Linked DNA regions of Homo sapiens. The protein of the gene in region 1 binds, or shares a complex with, the protein of each later gene. Each region holds a gene or a part of one and is shown on either strand. Other genes may lie near its edges. The genes, in order: TUBGCP2 and NME7.

Evidence for each region.
Region 2: TUBGCP2 (region 1) and NME7 share a complex: the UniProt entries of both Homo sapiens proteins name them as parts of the gamma-tubulin ring complex.

What each region holds. Positions count from the first base shown.
Region 1 is NC_000010.11:133,298,552-133,306,595, reverse strand, and holds part of TUBGCP2 (gamma-tubulin complex component 2), read left to right. Parts: intron 1-3,615; 5' UTR 3,616-3,654; coding exon 3,655-3,804; intron 3,805-6,482; coding exon 6,483-6,611; intron 6,612-6,992; coding exon 6,993-7,169; intron 7,170-8,044. UniProt on the Homo sapiens protein: Component of the gamma-tubulin ring complex (gTuRC) which mediates microtubule nucleation.
Region 2 is NC_000001.11:169,294,452-169,302,495, reverse strand, and holds part of NME7 (nucleoside diphosphate kinase homolog 7), read left to right. Parts: intron 1-3,732; coding exon 3,733-3,940; intron 3,941-8,044. UniProt on the Homo sapiens protein: Possesses an intrinsic kinase activity. Displays 3'-5' exonuclease activity with a preference for single-stranded DNA. Does not seem to have nucleoside diphosphate kinase activity.

The DNA.
Region 1 (8,044 bases):
CAGGATGGTCTCGATCTCCTGACCTCATGATCCGCCCACCTTGGCTTCCCAAAGTGCTGAGATTACAGGCGTGAGCCACCGTGCCCAGCATGTAGTTTTTAAATAAATACTCAGATGATTTTTCTTCATAGGTAGCTTTCTCTCCTGACTTGTGTCTGGTGGGGGAGTGCTTTGTTTTGGTGGCAAATGGTTTTCTTGCCACCTAGCATGACCAAAGTGTTTCTCAGACCAGCAGTTATAGGACAACCTGCAGTCCTCGGGGAGCCGAGTAGAATGTGGGTGAAACAGGCCACCCTTGGATTTGAAGGGGCCGCTGGCCGGAAAGTTTGGGCTGTCTTTTCTGCTTCACAAGTAGTTTGCAGGGCCTCGTCCAGGGCTCCCATGACTGTTAAAAAAGCATCTGGTAGTTTAAGATGTTGTCAGTGATTGGGACCCAATTTTCCTTTTGTAAACCTAACCATTTCCCAGATAACAGAGTTAACACCTCCAGGGAGCAATGGTGCCGCATGTTTGTTTCTGCTTTCCTGGTAACAACAGTGTAAGAACTTACCACGTATGGGCCCTTCTGTGCTTTCTCAGGGTGATTTCACTTCTCTCTACCACAGCTCTACGCAGGACCTAGGGCTTCCCCTTTTCAGAAGAAGCTTGGAGAGGACGTGTCCTTGTTCAGGGTCCCACAGCCTAGAAGTAGCCACGTCAGTGTCCAGACTGCATGGGGCTCCATGGCGCGTGCCCTGCTGGCCTTGTGCTTGAACTGTAGTTACCGTGAGCACCTCCTGGGTCAAAAGCATGTGTGTGAGCAACTCAGCACCATGCCTTCTTATCGCTCTCCTTCCATTTTCGGAGATACCCTGCCTGTGACCAGTATTTGATGTTCATCTACAGATAAACTGTCTTCCATCACACAGGATTAGAATCTCGGTGTCGAGTCCCGTGCTAATAATCGTTAGTGAATTAGCATATTGTGGGAGTATGTGCTGAGTCTTCTGTACTCTATTGTAGGGACCAGCCCCACAGGGTCGGTGGGTTTTTCTCCTCGTGTGCGGAGATGAGAGATTGTAAAAATAAAGACGCAAGACAAAGAGATAAAAGAAAAGACAGCGGGCCCGGGGAACCACTACCACCAAGACGCAGAGACCGGTAGTGGCCCCGAATGCCTGGCTGCGCTGTTATTTATTGGATACAAAGCAAAAGGGGCAGGGTAAAGAGTGTGAGTCATCTCCAATGATTGATAAGGTCATGTGTGTCATGTGTCCACCAGACATGGGGCCCTTCCCTGTTACGTAGCCGAGGCGGAGAGAGAGAGGACAGCTTATGTCATTATTTCTTCTATGTTCTTTTCAGAAAGATCAAAGACTTTAATACTTTCACTAATTTTGCTACTGCTATCTAGAGGGCGGAGCCAGGTGTACGGGATGGAACATGAGAGCAGACCAGGAGTGTGACCGCTGAAGCACAGCATCACAGGGAGACAGTCAGGCCTCCGGATAACTGCGGGCGGGCCTGACTGATGTCAGGCCCTCCACAAGAGTTGGAGGCGTAGAGTCTTCTCTAAACTCTCCGGGGAAAGGGAGACTCCCTTTCCCGGTCTGCTAAGTAGCGGGTGTTTTTCCTTGACACTGACACTACCGCTAGACCAAGGTCCGCTTGGCAAGGGGCATCTTCCCAGACGCTGGCATCACCGCTAGACCAAGGAGCCCTCTGGTGGCCCTGTCCGGGCATGACAGAAGGCTCACATTCTTGTCTTCTGGTCACTTCTCACTATGTCCCCTCAGCTCCTATCTCTGTATGGCCTGGTTTTTCCTAGGTTATGATTGTAGAGCAAGGATTATTATAATATTGGAATAAAGAGTAATTGCTACAAACTGATGATTAATGATATTCATATATAATCATATCTATGATCTAGATCTAGCATAACTCTTGTTGTTTTATATATTTTGTTACACTGGAACAGCTCGTGCCCTCGGTCTCTTGCCTCGGCACCTGGGTGGCTTGCCGCCCACACTCGATGTTTTGTTGAGCTCATCCTTGTCTCCCTGAAGCTGTCAGCAGAGTGGTTGTTTACCTTTTTTGGGTCATAGAGCCTTTGAGAATTTGTTGAAGGGTCATCTCCTCAGAAAATAAAAAGTTATTTTGCCCATAACTTTCAAGGGCTCATCTGTTACTGATTACTCATGGATACCGGCTTAAGAACCCTTGTGTAGATGAAATGTTTGTGAAGCATGTAAAGTTTGCTTATATTTGTTTTGTAATCTATAGCCAGTTGCCTTGCCTGTGTTTTTTGTTTTGTTTTGTTTTTTGTTGAGACAGGGTCTCCCTCTGTCGCCCAGGCTGGAGTGGCTCAAGCGATCCTCCCACCTCAGCCTCCCGAGTAGCTAAGACTACAGGCATATGCTACCATGCCCAGTTAATTTTTGTATTTTTTGTAGAGACAGAGTCTCACTGTGTTGCCCAGGCTGTCTTGACTCCTGGCCTCGAGTGACTCACCTGACTCAGCCTCCCAAAATGCTGGGATTCCAGGCGAGAGCCACTGCACACAGCCATGTGTTTGTCTTAATGGCCTTGTATCGGAACTCTTGGTGACAGAGGCTAATGAGCAGCCACTGGTGGGAGAGTAGGGGCGGCGCTCACCCTGCCCCCTGACCCAGGGGTGGGCTCACCCTACACCCTGACCCCACGCAGTGTTCTGCTGCCCACTTGGGTGTCTGTGACGCCTTCGATCTCATATGTGTTATATGTCTCCTGGTGAGCCCCTGGGGCAGCTGGAGCTGCAGTGGAACTTCACCTAGCTCAAACGTGTAGGGAACGTGTAGAAGTCCTACCAGAAGCGTCTCTGTCGGTAGCCACGCTTGGGCAAGAAAAGGAGATGTCACGGGTACCAGAGTGAAAAAGTAACGCAGAGCCGGCCAAGTGAATGGAGCTGCGGCTGAGCACCGCGGGCTCTGAGAACCAGTGTGGGCCTCTCCGGTAGAAGCTGGGATGTTACTGTGTGTGCCGGTAGCTGGCACAGTGTCAATGGCTTGGGCCTGCACAGAGCTCCCTGTGTAGACCCCACAGGCCTCACGTCTGGGACCAGAAAGCTCTGTCCCCAAGCCGAGGCGAGCAGCAGAGCATTCCCTGCTGGCCCAGACCCATGTGTGGAGGGAGGTGCAGGGGAAAGGGAACCTGGGTCTCAGGCCCCATTCATGCTGCCCACGGGGCTGGCTCCCGGAGCTGCGGAGGCCGCCTGGAAGCTGGAGGCAGGTGAATCCCAGGCCCACCCAGAGGACCCTCTGAGAGGCTGCTGGGGTGTCGGGGAGGGGCCCTAATCCCAGGCCCATGCAGAGGACCCTCTGAGAGGCTGCTGGAGTTCAGGGAGGGGCCCTAATCCCAGTCCCGTCCAGAGGACCCTCTGAGAGGCTGCTGGGGTGTTGGGCAGGGGCCCTAATCCCAGGCCCATGCAGAGGACCCTCTGAGAGGCTGCTGGGCTGTTGGGGGAGGGGCCCTAGGCCAGGCAGGCCAGGTGATAACTTGGTTTGTCAAAGCCTGACATTGGCCAGTCTTGAGTGTTTAAAAAAATGTTTTTTATTTCTACAGTTTGAATTTTATGAATAGCTGTCTTCTTACCTATAGGAGAACATATTGTGATGTTCGTGCCTCAGAGCTAAAACTATGAGTGAATTTCGGATTCACCATGACGTCAATGAACTGCTTAGCCTGCTGCGTGTCCACGGAGGAGATGGGGCTGAGGTCTACATTGACCTGCTTCAAAAGAACAGGACCCCGTACGTCACTACCACTGTCTCTGCTCACAGTGCCAAGGTGAGCACTGCCCTTGGTGTAGCGCTGTGCAGGGTGAGCACTGTTCCTGGGTCAGGGTGGTGCAGGGTGAGCCCACCCCTGGGTCAGGGTGCAGGGTGAGCGCCGTTCCTGGGTCAGGGTGGTACAGGGTGAGCACCATTCCTGGGTGAGGGTGCAGGGTGAGCCCACCCCTGGGTCAGGGTGCAGGATGAACACTGTTCCTGGATCAGGATGGTGCAGGGTGAACCCACCCCTCAGTCCATGTGCAGGATGAGCGTCGTCCCTGGGTCAGGGTGCATGATGAGCACCGCCCCTGGGTCAGGGTGCAGGGTGAGCGCCACCTCTGGTGCAGGGGGCAGGGTGAGCGCCACCTCTGGTGCAGGGTGCAGGGTGAGCGCCACCTCTGGTGCAGGGTGCAGGGTGAGCGCCACCTCTGGTGCAGGGCTGTGCGGGGTGCAGGGTGAGCGCCACCCCGGGGTCAGGATGGTGCAGGGTGAGCACTGCCCCTGGTGCAGGGCTGTGTACCGTGCAAGATGCAGGGTGAGTGCCCGTTCCTGGGTGGCCTCAATGGTACCGGCAACGATGGCAGACAGCACTTGGTCTGTGTGTGTGTTCAGCTCTGATTCTCCTGACTCCCCCCAGCAGCTCCTGTGATTCACCCCACTGTGCAGATGAGTAAATGGAGGCCTATGGAGAAAGCTGGGCCTAGAACCCTCCCTCTTCCCCACTCTGTCCCCTGCAGCCATGAGGTGGGAGAGTCCTGACATGTGCATTCCTGTGGATAAAAAGGGAGGGACTGGGCCAGGCGCGGTGGCTCACACCTGTAATCCCAGCACTTTGGGAGGCTGAGGCAGGTGGATCACAAGGTCAGGAGATCAAGACCACCCTGGCTAACACGGTGAAACCCCGTCTCTACTAAAAATACAAAAAATTAGCTGGGTGTGGTGGCGGGCACCTGTAATCCCAGCTACTCGGGGGGCTGAGGCAGGAGAGTGGCGTGAACCCGGGAGGTGGAGCTTGCAGTGAGCCGAGATATCGTGCCACTGCATTCCAGCCTGGGCGTCAGAGTGAGACTCTGTCTCAAAAAAAAAAAAAAAAAAAAAAAAAAAAAAGGGAGGGACTGGTATTAACCATGTTGAAATGCCTTTAAGGTATTATTTCTTTATTCAGATAATATGTAATTCAGAAGTATAGATTTTCAGTAAAAATGATTTTGAATTTGAAGTCTATTTTAAAAAATACATTATGAAGCTTCAGTTATTTAAACAGGTTAACAATGGCACAAGGATAATTAGGCAAATTAGCCGAGTGGAATAGAGACTTGGGGACACCCATGTTTAGTTCATTCTGAAGGAAGCATTGTAAATCACTGAGTAAAACATAACCCCTGCTGGGCACGGTCGCTCACACCTGTAATCCCAGCCCTTTGGGAGGCCGAGGCGGGTGGATCACCTAAGGTTGGGAGTTCGAGACCAGCCTGGCCAACATGGAGAAACCCCATCGCTACTAAAAATACAAAAATTAGGGCGTGGTGGTGCGTGCCAGTAATGCAGCTACTCAGGAGGCTGAGGCAGGAGAATTACTTGAACCAGGGAGGTGGAGGTTGCGGTGAGCCTAGATCACGCCATTGCACTCCAGCCTGGGCAACAAGAGCGAAACTCCGTCCAAAAGAAAAAGCATAACCCCTAGGGTTGCACATAATAACAAATTCCAGAGGGAACATAGTGAGGTGTATACAATGAACGCATAAACTACTGCGGGGAATACAGTGAGATGCAGACAATGAACGCATAAACTACTGGGGGGAAAAGGTAAGTCGCTACTCTCCAGTACAAACCTGAAGAAGCATAAAAGGGAACACAGTGAGATGCATACAATGAACGCATAAACTACTGGGGGGAAATGCAAGTTGCTACTCTCCAGTACAAACCTGAAGCAGCATAAAAGGGAATACAGTGAAATGTATACAATGAACGCATAAACTACTGGGGGGAAGTGTAAGTCGCTACTCTCCAGTACAAACCTGAAGAAGCATAAAAGGGCGGGCGCAGGGGCTCACACCTGTAACGCCAGCACTTTGGGACGAGGCAGGTGGATGGCTTGAGCCTGGGAGTTTGAGAGCAGTCTGGGCAACATGGTGAAATCCTGTCTCTAGAAAAAATTAAAATAATACGAAGAAGCACAAAAGGAAAGGAACCATAATGGGAAATACGGATAAGGTTTGTTTTGTTTTGTTTTGAGACAGAGTCTTACTCTGTCACCCAGGCTGGAATGCATGTGGCACGATCTTGTCTTACTGCAGTCTCAACCTCCCAGGCTGATGTGATCCTCCCATCTCAGCTTCCCAAGTAGTGACCACAGGCAAGTGCCACCACGCCTCGCTAATTTTTGAATCTTTTTGTAGAAATGGGGTTTTGTTATTTTGGCCAGGCTGGTCTTGAACTCCTGGACTCAAGCAGTCTACCAGCCTCGGCCTCCCAAAGTGCTGGGATTACAGTCATGAGCCACTGCCTAGCTCAAAACATGGATAAGTTTAACACAATATGGAGATGAGTTTTGTTAGTTTATTTCAGAGGGATAATTATTTAACCTACCCAATTTAATTCCATTGGCTTATTGTGTTCAATTTTCGTAAAGGTTTTTTTTTACAGTGCTTTATTAATTACCGTCATTAAATCACTCATGTTTGTGCTTTTGAGGTTAAAATTGCAGAGTTTTCTCGTACTCCAGAAGACTTTCTAAAGAAATATGATGAACTGAAATCTAAAAATACAAGGAACCTTGACCCGCTGGTGTACCTGTTGTCAAAGCTCACGGAAGACAAAGAGGTAGGTGCCCATGCCACGTGCCACACTGCGCCCGTACGGCCCATGTTGGGAGTGGGGTCGCGTCTCCTGCTCACTCCACGCCATCTTCCTGTCAGCTCTTCCTCGCTCACACCAGTAACGCTTCTAGGCCATGTAGGAAATTTTTGGTGAATCAGAATGAAAGATAACCCATGTTGGGTGTAAACATGAGAAGCAGCCTCTGGGGCACTTTGAGCTTCCCGCATGTGTCACGCTCAGTTCCTGCCTGTCGCACGCGTCGCTTTGCTATTAATGGGTGCCTGTCAGGGTTGGGGAGCCGTCCTGGTGGTGTCGTCCCTACTCTCCCCCTATGGCCAAAGAGGTGCTGGCCCAGTGTGAACACACAGTTTTACATGTTTTCAGACTCTGCAGTACTTACAACAGAATGCAAAAGAAAGAGCTGAGCTTGCAGCCGCTGCTGTGGGCAGCAGTACCACCAGCATCAACGTCCCTGCCGCGGCCTCCAAGATCTCCATGCAGGAGCTTGAGGAACTGAGGAAGCAGCTTGGCAGCGTGGCCACAGGCTCCACGCTGCAGCAGGTACTGCGTCCATGGCTGTCCACAGGCTCCATGCTGCAGCAGGTCCTGTGTCCGTGGCGTCCACAGGCACCCACACTCAGTGCTGTGCCGGGCCCCTGCTGGAAGGACATGTCTCTCTGTCATTTATTGAAAATGAATCCCTTAGAGAGGCCAAGGCTTAATGCTTGATCATGACCTAGCTCTATATGTTTAGTTTTTTTTTTAACCAAGAATTCTGGACCACAAGAATCAATAGCAGCAAGGTTCTGACCCACGTGGGAGTTGTGCTGCCAGGTGGCCACGTGACTCTGAGCCTACCCAATCCTGACTCCCCATTTCCCTCCTCCAATTTTTGACAATTTTGAGGGAATGCTTTCAGATCATTATATTTTCAAGATTCTCGAAAATACAGTAATTTTTATTATTCCTTCTGTATTTGCTACTTGCTCTTGGTTTTGATTTTATGCCCTACCCTGGTCTTTTGACGTAAGTCATCTCCCAGTCTCTCTCATTAGAGCTGCCACGTTCCTGCCTTTGTGACCTTTAAACTCCCTTTGGAGCTGTGTCCCTGAGGCGTCCTAGCCTCCTGGGTGCGTGTTGAGTGCAGCGGCTCCCAAGGACCCAGCCGGTTCTTGCTGGGCACGTTCTGTGCTGGACATGGTGCTAGGCCTCTGTCCACGTCTCCCTCAGCCGTGGCAGAAGACTGGGTCTTACTGCCACGTGCAGAGACAGTTTGCATCTGCCCGTGTCCCTGACCAGCCCTGAGTGGGAGTCAGTGCTTCCGAAAGCTGGGCCAGCCCAGGCCGACCCCATCAGCCTCTGGCGGCCACTGGCGCAGGAGGGCAGGCTCTCTGACCACATGTCAGGAGCCATCCTGTCACGCTGGGGCCCTTCTC
Region 2 (8,044 bases), on another chromosome or scaffold:
TAATTTGCTTAGGATAATGGCCTCCATCTCCATTCATGTTGTTGCAGAGACCATGATTTCATTCTTTTTTATTGCAGCATGGTATTCCATGGTGTATATGTACCACATTTTTTTTATCCAGTTCACCACTGATGGGCGCCTGGGTTGATTCCATGTCTTTGCTATTTTGTATAGTGCTGCAATGAACAGGCAAGTGCATGTATCTTTTTGGTAGAAAGGTTTGTTTTCTTTTGGATATATAGCAGTAATGGGATTTAAGGTTCAAATGGTAGTTCTGTTTTAAGTCCTTTGAAAAAACTCCAAACTATTTTCTACAGTGGTTGAGGTACTAATTTGCATTTCCATCAACAGTGTATAAGTGTGTTCCCTTTCTCTACAGACTTGCCAGCATATCTGTCGTTTTTTGACTTTTTTTTTAAAAAAAAATCAACTTCTATTTTAGATACAGGGGGTACACATGCAGATTTGTTACGTGGGAATATTGTGTGATGCTGAGGTTTGGAGTATGGATCCCATCATCCAGGTAGTGAGTATAGTACCCAATAGGTAGTTTTTCAAACCACCTGCCTTCTCTCCTCTAGTAGTCCACAGTGTCTATTACCCCCAAATTTGTGTCTATGTGTGTTTAATGTTTAGCTCCTACTTGTAAGTGCGAACATGCAGCATTTGGTTTTCTGTTTGTGGATTAATTTGTTTAGGATTATGGCCTCCAATTGTGTCCATATTATTGCCAAGGACATAATTTTATTTTTTTATGGCTGTGTAGAATTCTGTGTTATATATATATACCACATTTTCTTTATCCAATCTGCCACTGATGGGCACTTGAGTTATTTCCATGTATTTGCTATTGTGAATAGCACAGCAATGAGTGTATGAGGGCATGTGTCTTTTTGGCAGAATTTCTTTTCTTTTGGGTATATACCCAGTAATGGAATTGCTAGGTTAAATGGTAGCTCTGTTTTAAGTTCTTTGAGAAATATCCACACTGCTTTCCACAATGGCTGGAGTAATTAATATTCCCACCAACCGTGTATAAGCATTCTCTTTCCTCTATAGTCTTGCCAGCATGTTATTTTTTGACTTTTTAATAATAACCATTCTGACTGGTGTGAAATGGTATCTCATTGTGGTTTTGATTTGCATTTCTCCGATGATTAGTGATATTGAGCGTTTTTTCGTATGCTTATTGGCTGCTTGTATGTTCTTTTGAGAAGTGTGTATTTATGTCTTTTGCTCTTTTTTTAGTGGGGTTGTTTCATGCTTGTTTGATTATTTAAGGTCGTTACAGATTCTGCATATTAGTCCTTTGTTGAATGCATAGTTTGTGAATATTTTCTCTCATTCTGTGGATTGTCTTTTTACTCTGTTGCTAGTGCAGAAGCTTTCTGTGCAGAAGCTCTTTAGTCCCACTCGTCAATTTTTGTTTTCGTTGCCATTACTTTTGAGGACTTAGTCATAAATTCTTTCCCCAGGCCAATGTCCAGAATGGTGTTTCCTAGGTTTTCTTCTAGGATTCTTATAGTTTGAGGTCTTACTTTTAAATCTTTAATCCATCTTGAGTAAAGTTTTGTATATGGTTAATGTTAAGGGGCCAGTTTCTTTCTTCTGCTTATGGCTAGACAGGTATCCCAGCACCATTTATTGAATAGAGAATCCTTTCTCCATTGCTTATTTTTGTTGACTTTGTCAAAGTTCAGATGGCTGTAGATGTGTGGCTTTATTTCTGGGTTCTCTATTATGTTCCAGTGATCTATGTGTCTGTTTTTGTACCAGTACCATGATGTTTTGGTTACTGTAGCCTGTTGTACTTTTAAACTATTTTGGTAGTCTTGTATACATAAAGCAATGTTCATGGAACCTTTCTATTTTAACTAGTTTGATATATATTTTGTTCCTTGACATAGAACAGATAATATATGTTACACTTTATGTATTCTAAATATTTGACATGTAATTAAATTTAAGTGAATATTTTGCATGCTCATATTATTATTACTGTTGCCAAAGACTGTTTACACTTCTAATAAGAAAGAATGTTACATCAGCCAAACTAAATGGCCACAGTAGACATGTTATTTGATATCCTGCACTGAGTAGTGGGTTTTTAAAAAAATTTGTATGTAAGAAAATTATTATGCTATAGATTATTTCAAATCAAGTGTTATAAAATATTCCTAAGCCTTCTTAGAATAGCTATATACACTTTTCTAGAAAATTGGTGGAAATTATCTTTTGGTATAAACTTTGTATATGTTTATAGCATTAACTTACAACTCCTAGTCTAATGATTTATGTGTGATTTGCATGCAGTAAATTTTATTAAAGGAATGAATTAACTAGTTGCCTGTTAATGAGAATGATGTAACAAAAGACTAGGTGAAGTAATTAAATTTTCATGAAGCAGTATCTATGATCAGGCACATCCTTCCCTATATTGTTACATGCCATATTCATAGGCTTATTCAATTGTGTGTTTTGAGAATTTTGTATTAATAGGGCGTTAGATTGTAAGTGTCTTGAAGGGGGATCTTTTTTGTGGCACAGACGCTGATATGTTATAGGCAATTATTAAATGCTTATTGAGTGAATAAACATGGTTTGCTCCTTTGATTTGGGTTTTTTTAAATCTAGTGGTTGGTCTTGGGGGTTTTGTTTGTTTTGGCAGCAAAGGTCTGGCAGAAAATGTATGAGGAGGTATTATAGAACTCTTAGGATAGAAGACAAGAATACTTTTTTGTACATGCTGTTTTTTAGAAATATTCTTCAAAATGAATGGGAGTGTTTTAAAAAGGAAGTACTGAGGGGAGCTGACATATAACATGCAGGGTGGAAGGAAGTGTGTAAAAAATAGTCATAAGTTAGTGGGCACAAAAGAGCCTGTCACACCATGCTCCTTTCTCCAGGAGGATCTCTTCTCTCTACTTTGGATGAGAGAAAACCATGGGCTTACTCTAAAAAGTACTGTGTCCCTGCTTAATATAGTCAGAGGGAGGATGTCACTTATTTCATAGTTAAACTTGTCATTGCATCCTGTACACATATAAAAGTAGAAAATAAAATGAAGTATTGTCTTTTATACCTTGGGGGACTGTGACTCAGTGCTGGATTTTTAGTCAAGAACCGATGCGTACACTTTAATAATTTAATACAGAAATAACCCAGAGTAGTTTTTACGCTAATAAAAGGATATTTCTTGAAGCCTGCTGGGGATTTTTTTTTTTATCACCAAACCAGCTCAGTGTTTATTGATTAAGAGAGTTCTTTGTCAGTCTTTGAATTCTAATAGTTTTACACAAAAATAAATAAATTCTTACTAAAAATATGTTACAAGGCATCCATCCCTATATATTGTGAAATTGTACTTGACTGCAGTGGTAAACACATGTAAATAAAAAGGAAAATCCTCTGTACCTGTTAGAGCACTGGGAAAAGCATAGGTCAACAGTATGCATTTTAAGTCATGAAATAGTCTTAATTCAACAGAACAGTGATTTTTCTGGTAACAGTAATTTGACATTACTAGTGATTTGAAGTGAATTGAGCCACTGCAAGACACTCAATTTATGAAAAATTTCTCCTGCCCATGTAAAATTAACTATGCTTAATGGTTCTAAGATTATAATATTCATGTCTATGTTGAAATAATCCAATTTAAATATATCCTGTCGTTAAGACAAATACCTAGTTGACAGAAAAAAGAAGCAAACTAATCTTCTATCTGTTTTGTAGTGAGCTGATCCAGTTTATTACAACTGGTCCTATTATTGCCATGGAGATTTTAAGAGATGATGCTATATGTGAATGGAAAAGACTGCTGGGACCTGCAAACTCTGGAGTGGCACGCACAGATGCTTCTGAAAGCATTAGAGCCCTCTTTGGAACAGATGGCATAAGAAATGCAGCGCATGGCCCTGATTCTTTTGCTTCTGCGGCCAGAGTAAGGTGTTTTAAAAATATTTTAATGCTCTTCTAGTTCTGTTAAATGTTTTATATCAAAGGAAAGCATTTCTATCACTGGTGACTTAGGGTGGATTTATGCTGCTGCTCTAGTAGTAGAGAAAACCTTTGACATCTTGCCTACTATCAAACAGTGATTCAGTGTGTCTCCTTTGTGAACTGGTAACCTGATCATGATCAACGTAAGTTTTCTCCAATTAAAACACTTCTCATCCTGTTTCTTGTTCCCAAGACTTAAATTACTGAGGCTCCTAAATGTTTGAATTATTGAATTCATGTAAGAATACCAGTTTATGGCTAGTAGATATTAAAAAGAAGATATAATTTGAGATATTTCCTTTTGATTCAGACGTAACACTGTGCTTTCAAGCTTAACATCCTATTATTTTCCTATATATAGCTAGTGTTTATGAAAGTTTCTCTACTCCTTATTTTTAAATCCATATAAATAAAGCATTTATTGGATTTATACTGAGGTTGAATTAAAGAAGTGTAAGTTTATTTTTAGCATCGTGAGAAGTGTCTCACTTAAGGTAGTTTTTAATCTGGTTGTGTTTGCAATGAAACAATATTAGACAGTTTTATAATTGATTTCTTTCTTTTTCCTACCATTTCATCAGCAAGTCCCTTCAGCTCTTTCAAAATAAACCCTGAATCTGATCATTGTGGTCTGAATCACTATTATATTTTGCCAGAACTGCTACAATAGCCTCCAAATTCTTTTTTCCTCTTTTCTTACACTCAATTAATGAAAATTTTACCTTACCCAAGTAAAATCAGCTATGCCCAGTGATCTTTTAAAGACAAATCAGATTAACATTCACCTGCTGAAAACCCTTCAGTGAATTTCTGTCTCTTCTAGAATAAAATCTAAAGTCTTTATTGTGGCCTCCAATGCTCTATCTAGTCTGGCCCATATCTATCTCTAACTGTATCTTTGATCAATCTCTATCTTAATCATTGTGTTCCAGGCACACTAACCATCTCGCTATTCCTTGAATAGCATATTTCTGTCTGGAATGGTCAACTAACAGCAAAGAGGACAGTGTGGTTGGATAGGAATGAGAGAGGGAGGAAGAGGGTGATGAGGTTACAGAGGTAATTAGGGGAAAGATTATATGGTCTTATAGGCCGTAGTAGTACTTTTAGATTTTTCTCTGAAAAAATAGAGAGCCATTTTAGGGTTTTGAACAAAGGACTGATATCTTCCACTTGCCATTTAAAAGGATCATTCTGGCTGTTGCATTAAGAATGACTATAGAGGCTGGGAGTGGTGGCTCACACCTGTAATCCCAGCACTTTGGGAGGCCAAGGCGGGCAGATCATTTGAGGCCAGGAGTTCGAGACCAGCCTGGCCAATATGGTAAAACCCTGTTTCTACTAAAAATACAAAAATTAGCTGGGTGTGGTGGCGCCCACCTGTAATCCCAGCTACTCCAGAGGCTAAGGTGGGAGAATTGCTTGAACCAGGGAGGTGGAGGTTGCAGTGAACTGAGATCATGCCACTGTGCTCTAGCCTGGGTGACAGAGTGAGACTCCATCTCGGGGGAAAAAAAAAAGAATGACTATAGAGGGCAAAAACAGCAACAGGGAGCCTAATCAGGAGTCTGTTGGAATAACCCAGTGAGATGATGGCTTGGACCTGGGTGGTAATAATGAAAGAAGTATACAAATATATTTTAAAATATATATTAACGGTTGAAGGTCAAATAAACAAGATTTTCTGCTAGATTGAATGTAGAGTATGAGAAAAAGATACCAAGTATTACTCCAAAGTTCTTAGCCTGATTATCAGAAGGATAGAATTTACGTAAACTGAAATGAGGAAAACTGTGGCTAGAGTCAGAATGAATGGACAATCAGGAGTTAACGTTTTGGACATTTATAAACTTAACCTGTTTGTTAGTTTTCCAATTAGACTGATGAAAAAAATTAGTGTGACAGCTTAGAGTTATCAGCACATAAATGGTATTTAAAGCCGGGAGACTGGTTGAGATTACCAAGGAGAAGGTATAGATAGAGAAGTAAAGAGGACCAAAGATGAAGCTACATCTTGATAAAAGGTAAGGAGAAGAAGGCAGCAAAGGAGGTTGAAGAGGAGCCACCAGAGAGGTAAGAGGAAAAACTGAGAGATAATTATGTCCTGGAGGCCAAGTGAATCAAATATTCTAAAATGAGAGAATGACCAGTGGTGTCAAATAAGGCAAGTAAGAAGAGGACTAAGAATGGATTGTTAAATTTTGCAATGTGGATATCATTGGTGAACTTTGTAAGGTGAATGTTGATGGGGAGGTGGAGGCAAAACCCTGTGTGGAGTAGACTTAAAAGAAAATTGTGGGACGGGAATTGTAGTTAGTGAATATAGACAACTTTTTTTTTGAGGAGTTTTTTTGAGGAGTTTTCCTGCAAAGAGATGAGGTGGTAGCTGTCAAGAAAAGTAGTATCAATTTTTTTTAAGAGGAGAGGTATTGGGTAAAAAATTGATGATGTAGGAAAAAGAGGAAGACTTGTTGGAGCAATTTCATTAATTAGGCAAAAGGAAATGGAAATTAGAACCCAGGTGGAGAGATTAGGCAGGTGTGCCTCTCAGGTACTCGTCTATAGCAACAGATGGGAAGGGAGAATATGTGAACACAGATGCTGATTCTTAAGTAGGAAGCAAGATCAAAACAGCTGAAAGTGAGGATGAGGTATAAGGTATTGGTTGGTCTGAAGGGAGAGAAGAATATGTGAAATGGTGATCTGGAAAAGGAATAGATCAGGGAAATGTGGTGTGTGATTGCTATACTGAATTAATGGCCCATGTAGTGTTCATGGCCATGAACTATGAGTGTGGTTCTCCAGCCTGTTCAACTGCATGGCTGAAGGTAAGGAGTAGGTGGAGAGCTGGCTTTTAACCATGGCTGTGGTTTTGTGAAACAAATGTGACGGAAGTGTTAAGGAAGTTAAAGATACATGCAAGAGAGCAATTATAGTCTTTGACCATATCTTAGTAGTAGACATTTATTGTAAATGTGGTATTGTTTTGTATAGTTAAATTTCCAATCATATTTTAAAGCATTATAAAAATAATAAACATATCTAATTAATGAAGGAAATAATTGAGGCTGAACTGAAAGTCACTACCATGTTTACTGATATTTCCTGCCTATTTCACCCTATTACCACCTTATGCCATCCATTTCTTTTTTATTTCTACTAGATTATTTAATAAATTTGAGCATAAATATACTTGTTAGATTTTAGCATATCTTGTAGTGGAGCAACTTTTGTTAAGTTAGCTACTGTCTCAGTCCATTTTGTGTTGCTGTGAAGGAATACCTGAGGCTGGGTCATTTATAAAGGAAAAAGGTTTATTTGGCTCATAGTCCTGATGGCTGGGACATCAAGATTGGGCATCTGCATCTCGTGAGGGTCTCAGGCAGCTTCCACTGCCTGAGGTGGAAGGTAAAAGGGAGCCTGCGTGTGCACAGATCACATGGTAAGAGAAGAAGCAAGCCACCGGGAGAGGTGTCAGGCTGTTTTTAACAACCAGCTTTCAGAGGAACTAATAGAGGGAAAATTCGCTCACCTTGGAGGGAGGGCATTAATCTATTCATGGGATTTACCCCTACTATCCAAACCTCCCATTAGGCCCTATCTCCAACATTGGGGATCAAATTTCAACGTGAGATTTGGAAGGAACAAACATCCAATCCAGAGCAGCTACCATTGCCATTTCACCTAAAGAAATGTCTTAAACATATTCGTTTATATTTTGTGCATTTAATTTTTTTAACCTCTTTCTGCCATTAGTTCCTGAAATATCCTATTATTTGTATGAACCCTTTAGGATATATATTTTTTTACCCTTGTCTGGGGAAGAGTGAGTGTTGTTGACATTATGTTAGGTGGCTCTAGGAATTAAGGAAAAATATTGTAGCTGGAAAATGAGCTTATGTGAAGAAGCAAAGACCACAGGTCTTAAAAAATTGAAAAACATCACAGCCCCAAACTTATGCAGCCCCAAACAGCCTCTTCTTTACCTTGAATTCCTATTAGTTATTGTCTAATTTTTCATTCCATCTTTCCAGATTTTACCAAA